Homo sapiens: one gene and its partner. The protein of the gene in region 2 purifies or fractionates together with the protein of the main gene of each other region. This does not show direct contact. Each region holds a gene or a part of one and is shown on either strand. Other genes may lie near its edges. The genes, in order: PPP2R2B and ZNF106.

The links.
Region 1: the proteins of ZNF106 (region 2) and PPP2R2B purify together in Homo sapiens (co-immunoprecipitation; one large-scale study listed by IntAct). This does not show direct contact.

What each region holds. Positions count from the first base shown.
Region 1 is NC_000005.10:146,872,176-146,875,996, forward strand, and holds part of PPP2R2B (serine/threonine-protein phosphatase 2A 55 kDa regulatory subunit B beta isoform), read right to left. Parts: intron 1-3,821. UniProt on the Homo sapiens protein: The B regulatory subunit might modulate substrate selectivity and catalytic activity, and might also direct the localization of the catalytic enzyme to a particular subcellular compartment.
Region 2 is NC_000015.10:42,442,594-42,446,414, forward strand, and holds part of ZNF106 (zinc finger protein 106), read right to left. Parts: intron 2,389-3,821; coding exon 2,234-2,388; intron 1,670-2,233; coding exon 1,609-1,669; intron 1-1,608. UniProt on the Homo sapiens protein: RNA-binding protein. Specifically binds to 5'-GGGGCC-3' sequence repeats in RNA. Essential for maintenance of peripheral motor neuron and skeletal muscle function.

The DNA of each region.
Region 1 (3,821 bases), on a different chromosome or scaffold from region 2:
AAAGGGCTTGGGATTGCCCCTGGGGACCTGGATGCTAATAATGAATACTTGCTAGTGATTTTCAATGCATTCTGGTTATTATGTTTAGTAGCAGAACATTTCCCATCCCCAGAAAGGTCATTTACAATAGTGTAAGGCAGCTACTTCTCACCTCGCATTTCAGGTTTCTCTGAGAACAGCAGAGAGCTCAAACATTCATCCATATGCATTGGAAACAGCATTCTGATCTGGCATTTGCATACAAATACCAAAGCAACTTAAGGAACTATGAGGCAGCTCTCCATCATATGACACTACCCCCTTTTATTTTTTCAATGCCTTCCCAGCATCTTCATATCAAAAGCCATTTTCATGTACCTTCCCAGCTTTATTCATTATAAGTTTCCCCTTTCTTGAGCTTATTTGGAATGGGGGATGGAGGAGGAATCTTTACTTCCTCACTTTTACTCTCTGTGGCCCTAAAAAGCTAATGTATTTCACAAATCACTCAGATCTCAAACCTGGAGACGTTCTAAACTCAACTCATCCAAGACTGGACTCTTCTTATCCTACCACATTGCTGAGAAATGGCCATATATTATAGTATTACTTGAATAATATCAGTGTGTGGTTATTTATGCTTACCAAGGCCCTATTCTATTGTGAGGTACTTTTTTGCTACAATTTCTTCATACCAAGCCAAGATCCACTTCCTTGTACTTTCTCACTCATTGGTTCAAATTTTGCCCTGAAATGTTCTTATCTGAGGCATCTCATCTATTCATACAGTTTTAAGTACCTTTAATATGCTGGTGATGTTTAATCTCAAATTTATTATCTAGTCCAGGTCTTTCTCTTGAGCTTCAGACCCAGAAATCCAATTGTCTACTTGCAAGTCTCACTGTGAAACTAGATGTCTCACTGTCTTCTCAAACTAATCAGTTTTCAGTCTGTTTCCGCTTTTAGTGATGCGCCCCATTATGCATCCATTTTCATGGCAAAATTCTGGGAGTTGTCCTTGACATCACCTTCTCCATCTGCACCCAATCATAGTAAGTAAGTGCAATGCAATCTTTCTCTATTACGTATCTTAAATCCATCTAATTCTCTCCATCTCTACTGATGCCACCATCCTGGAGCACACCATGACCTCCTAATTATCTCCCAACTTTCATTCTTTTTCATTACATGCCTGGCTCTCTAACCCCATCCTACACAGCAGCCAGATTAAACTTCTAGAAAAACAAATCTGATCATGTTTCCCTTTTCCTTAATGGCTTTCCATTCATCTTTGGATAGAGTCCAAACTCCTTGTGGTCAACAAGGCTTGATATGATCTGGTCCCTGAATACTTCTCCAGTCTTTTTTTCCCCCAACATTTTATTATGAAAATTCAAACAGACTGCAAAGTGGAAAAAAAATTACAGTGATTATCCATAGACCCACCACCTCAATTTAGTTATTAACTTTTTTTTTGAGATGGAGTCTCGCTCTGTCACCAGACTGGAGTGCGGTGTCGCGACCTCGGCTCACTGCAACCTCTGCCTCCTGGGTTCATGCGATTTCCTGCCTCAGCCTCCTGAGTAGCTGGGATTACAGGCATACACCACCATGGCTGGCCAGTGACTAACATTTTATACTTGCTTTATCATATGTCTATCCATTTACCCATCCCTCTCTCTTAGCATTAATCTTTCTTGCTTCTGGTACATTTCAAAATGAACTGCAGACTCCATTCTCATTTTTATCACTCTTCTCCCTGTTCCTAGCCATAGTCATCTTTCCATTCCTTGAATCAGTTAGGCTATTTTATCTCTCTGGGCTTTTGTACCTATTGTCCCTTCTACCTAAAATGCTTTCAGGTCTTGTTAATTGCAAATTCATCCTTTAGTTCTCAGTTTCAGCTGTCTGAGAGGCTGTCCTTGAACTCCCGATCTAAATTAGATCCACCTTTCCACCTTATGACCCCAAGGCATCTTGTGCCTTTCCTAAATATCACTTATCACAATTGGTAACTATATATTTATTTGCAAAATTATTTGTCTCATACTATCTCCTTTGCTAGATTGAAAGATCCCTGAGGACAGAGACCACGTCTGTATTGGAACATCCCGTATCACCTCTGCAAAACGTCAGTATTTGTTGAAGGAATTAAAGGCAGAATGAATCAATAATTGAAAGGAGCTACTTGGAATAGTAAACTTGTTCTTCCTTTAATATGTATAAACAAGACAGTTTTTTAAAAAGGCTTCTGAGGGAAGGTGGAACCCACTTGTTGCCAGAATATAACCAGGAAGTACATTAAGTAACAATAACAGCTATAATGAATTAAGGGTGGGCTTTGTATTAGGCATATCCCGAGTGCTTGAGTGCTTTCTCTGCATCAAATAATTTTTCTTTGGCATAGGTTCTATTGTTATTCCCACTTTCCAGCTAAGGAAACTGAGAACAGAGCAGTTATTTTAAAACACCCCATCTATGTAGAATATTTGGTCTATCTGTGGCCCCATTTGAAAGTAGGAAGATTAATCTAGAAAACTCACAGACTGCTATAATGGAGATAGGGTTTTACTTGGCTGTAACAGAAGCCTAAAAATATAGCAGGAAACCCACATATAGAGAGATTTGAGAGATGAATCCCTGGTTAGGAAACCTGGGGTTCCATATCTGAAAAAAAAAATCAAACCATTGTGTTGACTTTATTTTTGTGGGAAATTTCAACCCTACCCAAGGCCCTTCCTCTATATAACCCCATACACACACTTCAAATTTTCCCTGCAAAGGATTTTATGCCTGATGGAAATATAGCTTATACACTGAGATAAAACCATTGCAATCTTTCCCAGAATAAGAGCTGATGGTTAAAGGAAAATGAAGTAGTGCAGAATTTCCTAGTGGGAGAACCTGGCCTTCAGACACTGGCTTGAGTTTGAAGACAAGGTTTTCCATTGAATGTGTGACTTTTGGCAAATTAGTAACATCTTCAGACCTCAGTTGCATCAGTTTCCTTCTTTGAAAATGGAAATGACAACATCCATTTAACAGGGTTTAGATATATTGAAATGCTATACATAAAGAGCTCAGCACAGTGCTTGGAACATAGAAGATGCTCAAAGATGTTAACTTTAAAAGAGGAGGAAAGGTAGGGGAGGGTGGTAATTTTCATGCTCAGAATTAAAAAAAAGTCCTAGGAAATTTATTTATTAAATGCACACCATGCATTCTTTTGAGAAAGACAGAGAGAGAGAAAGAGACTGAGAGAGGGGAGCTTGGGTGAAAGTGTCCTTTAGCATTTGCATTGCTCTTAGCTGGATGAACTTGCCTGCAGTCACCACTTACAATGCAAATTGAGTTTAGAGTCCTTCACACTAACTACACAGCAAAAACCTTTCAGCTTTAAATAGAACACTGCAATGTGGAATGATCTGAGCAAACAGAAGAAAAATTCAGAAATACATGTGAAGGAGATATTTTGGAGGAAAAAAAAGAACAATCTGACATAACTGAGCAGGTAGGAGGAAAATGTAGAAATAGTAAAGGAAACAGAAAAGCAAGATCTATGGAAGGACTAGAAGCTAATTCCCCACCCAGTAAGAGGGTATAAGTTAATAAGGGGGAAGAAAACTTGTGGGGCAAGTCCCCAGTGAGGAGAATTTTTAAAAAGTCTTTTGATCTGGTGCTTTTTCAAGGTATACTAACACTTCTTAAGGAATTCATTGGAAGAACAGGGACTCTTCCCCCTCTGGCAACAAAATTGCATGAATCTTCCCTGAAACGAATAGGTCAAAACTGTAGGGAACTTCTTGTTCTATCCAACTTCTGGTATTTACATCGTTTAAGTT
Region 2 (3,821 bases):
AGAGAATAGGCATCAACATTCTTTTTTTTTTTTTTTTTTTTGAGATAGGGTCTCGCTTTGTCACCCAGGCTGCAGTGCAGTGGTGCAAACACTGCTCACTGCAGCCTTGACCTCCTGGACTCAAGCAATTCTCCTGCCTCAGCCTCCCAAGCAGCTGGGATTATAGGCACATGCCACTATGCCCAGCTATTATTGTTATTATTTTTTTGAGACAGAGTCTCACTCTGTCACCCAGGCTGGAGTGCAGTGGCGCAATCTCGGCTCACTGCAACCTCCACCTCCCGGGTCCAAGCGATTCTCCTGCCTCAGCGTCCTGAGTAGCTGGGATTACAGGAGCACGCCACCATGCCCAGCTAATTTTTGTATTTTTAGTAGAGATGGGGTTTCACCATGTTGGTCAGGCTGGAATTATTATTATTACTAATAATAATTATCAATAATTTTTGTATTTATTTGTAGAGACAGGGTTTCACCACATTGCCCAGGCTGGTCTCAAACTTCTGGGCTCAAGGAATCCACCTGCCTCAGACTCCCAAAGTGCTGGGATTACAGGCATGAGGCACTGTGCCTAGCAACATTCCAATTTTTCAAATTTTAAATGACTTATCCAAAGTTATATAGGCTACTAATGGAAGGGAGAAGATTTGAACCCAGGCCTTTTGATTCCTAATCAAAACTCTTTCCATAACATATTGTCTGTTGCTAAACATTTTTGGGATGCACAGTTTACAGACCTTTCTATAGAAGGAAGAAACTGGCCAGGCGTGGTGGTTCAGGCCTGTAATCCCAACCATTTGGGAGGTCAAGTTAGGAGGACTGCTTGAGCCCAGGAGTTTGGGACTATCCTGGGAAACACTGGGAGATTCCATCTCTATAAAAGCATTTTTTAATTTTTATAACTTTTTATAATTTTATATAACTTTTTATAACCTTTAAATTTTTACAATTTAAATCATAATTTTATAAAATTAAAAGTTAGAAATTTTAATAACCAGGCATGGTGACACACGTCTGTAGTCCCAGCTACTGGGGGGAGTGAGGTGGGAAAATTGCTTGAGCCCAGGAGGTCAAGGCTGCAGTGAGCCATGATCGTGCCACTGCGCTCCAGCCTGAGTGACAGAGCAAGACCCTGTCTCAAAAAAACAAAAAAAAAGGATGAAACCAAGGAGACAGGAGAGAAATAACATGACCTTTTCATGACTACTTTTCATCCCCTCAAAGAGAACAAAAAGGCCTGGTGCAGTGGCTCATGCCTGTAATCCCAGAACTTTGGGAGGCTGAGGCAGGCGGATCACCTGAGGTCAGGAGTTCGAGACCAGTCTGGCCAACATGGCGAACCCTGTAACCCTGTCTCTACTAAAAATACAAAAATTAGCTGGGGGTGGGGTGGGCACCTGTAATTCCAGCTAATCAAATGCTGAGGCACGAGTATCACTTGAACCTGGGAGGCAGAGGTTGCAGTGAGCAGAGATTGCACCACTGCACTCCAGCCTGGGAAATAGAGCAAGACTCTGTCTCCAAAAAAAAAAAAAAAAAAAAAAAAAAGCAGAGAAAACAAAAAAGTAACACGCTATAGAGGGCCCAATCCATCAGATGCCCTCTGAATACCTTGTAATCCCTGTAGAATCTGTATTCTATGGGTCCTCAGTGCACTCATCTCCATAGTTATCTAAAAATAAAGTATTTTATTAAGCATTTTGAAATCCAACTTGTAAGGTCCTCTAGGTCTCCCCATTTTTCTTCTATGTCCTGACCAAAAATCAGAGTGTCTTGACTGCTCTGTGACCCAGCCAGCCGCAGGTTTTCTCCAGCAGGCTTGAACCCTACCTGGGGCCTTGAAGATTCCCAGGCACTGATAAAAGTATCTAGGTTGTTGCCCAAAACACTGAAAGAAATTGGCCCTGGCCCTGAGCCAAATTCCTTAAACCCTCATATAAACTCCACATCCCGCCCCCTGGCTGTGGATATACCTAGGGAGAACACCCTTGTGGGGACTGCTGCAGCCTACTCTGTAAGTAAGCTCTCCTAATAAATGCTTTGGACTCATCACCCTGGCATTTAGTGCTTCTTTCTTTGGAATCCTAACTGTCCCCCATTAGGCACAGTCTGGGGCACTTCCCTTGTGGAAACTCCCCTGCCATTGCTTTTGGGGTGACTCCAGACATGGGTTTGGCAGCACAAAACAAGATTTCGGAGATGATCCATTTTTATTAAATCCTCCACATGCTGTTACCTGCTGCTTGAGCATAAGTAGCCTCTGAACTTCCACATAAGCTGTCTGAAGGGCTGCACGGGCTTGCAGAAGATTGTTATCCATGCACTGCAATGACTTACTAAGTTCTTCCTCCCTTAAAGAAATATTCAGCAGCTGGTCAACCTGAGAACGTTCTGCCAAAAGAAATCATAAGGTTCAGGTTAATACGAGAGATTTCCCTCTCATCACACAGCTCAGAAGACTAAACTATACCCATTATTTAGGATAAGACTTTATGTTCTCCTCAGTAGGTCATTGGAAATTCATAAAACATTTAGTCAAGCACAATGATATCAAAGCTAGGAACCAAAAGTGAGAACTGCTAAGATGGAGGTATCTCATAAGCTCCAGTGTACCATCACATCATTCTGTCTCATCTAATCACCGCCTTCTACCACCACCTTTCCAGGTGAAATCTGTCCCATGCAAACCACCTGTTCTAGGACTCGTTTCCCATTCTTCCTTTATCTACCACTGTCTTCACACAGGACTTTTGCTTAGATTGGACTCTAGACCTAGACTGCTTGCACTCTCTTTCCAATCCATATTTAGTCTGTTAGTTGACTTAAAAATTGTTTTTATTAGAGAAGACTTCCTGAAGAAAATACAGCTTTGAAATAGTACATTTAACTTAGTTTGAATAAAATGTTCTGTGTATGTATTTACCATCATTGTGTTTGTCTGTTTCCTATTCAATATGCCAGGACCTCTCCCTTAAGCTCCACACCCACATATCCAACTACTGACTATGATATTTCTAGCTAGGTTATCTCAAAGGTCCTTTAAGTCAAAGAATCCCTGAGGGAATTCATCATCTTTCTCTATTCTCAATCTGCTCCTCTCATGGAGTTTTCTAGCTCTACATATGCTCCATCTGGTTGGCCCAGCCAGAAATGTGGGTTGTCCTTGACTCCTCCCTTATCCATCACATCCACTCACTCAAGCCTCATCCAATCACTTCCAGGACTAGCCCTTATACTAGAACTGGGTTAGAGTCAAGGAAAAGCAAGAATCACAGAAATACATCAATGAGGGAGCAATGTTAATAACTTCTTTCCATAATTCACTTTAGAAAAGCAACCAAGGAAGGGAGTGTGGAGGTGGGGCAGCGGGGAAGCAACCAAGATGCCTCAAAAACTGAAAGTGAGAGAAATGGCTATACATGACCAAGAGGGCCAACACATTTCATCCCACTGAAAAGGCTCAAGGAAACTTCCTGGCTTTATATTGTCCAAGTGGTATACTAACCTTGGCTTACAAGTCTATGTGACATCATATATTTCTTCTACAGTTGTTAACTGGATGTATTAGGAAATCAAACTTTTCTTTCCTCTTAAGCAAGGCAACAAAAATGTCCAAAAAAAGTAAATGGACAATCAGTGTTTGATAAATGACAAGCTATGCTCTGTGTCAAGCTGCACAAACGCTGAACTGCTACAAGAACCTCTTGGGGCTGGGCACGGTGGCTCACATCTATAATCCTAACACTTTGGGAGGCCAAGGTGAGAGGATCACTGGAGTCCAGGAGTTTGAGTCCAGCCTGGGCAATATAGCTAGACCCTGTCTC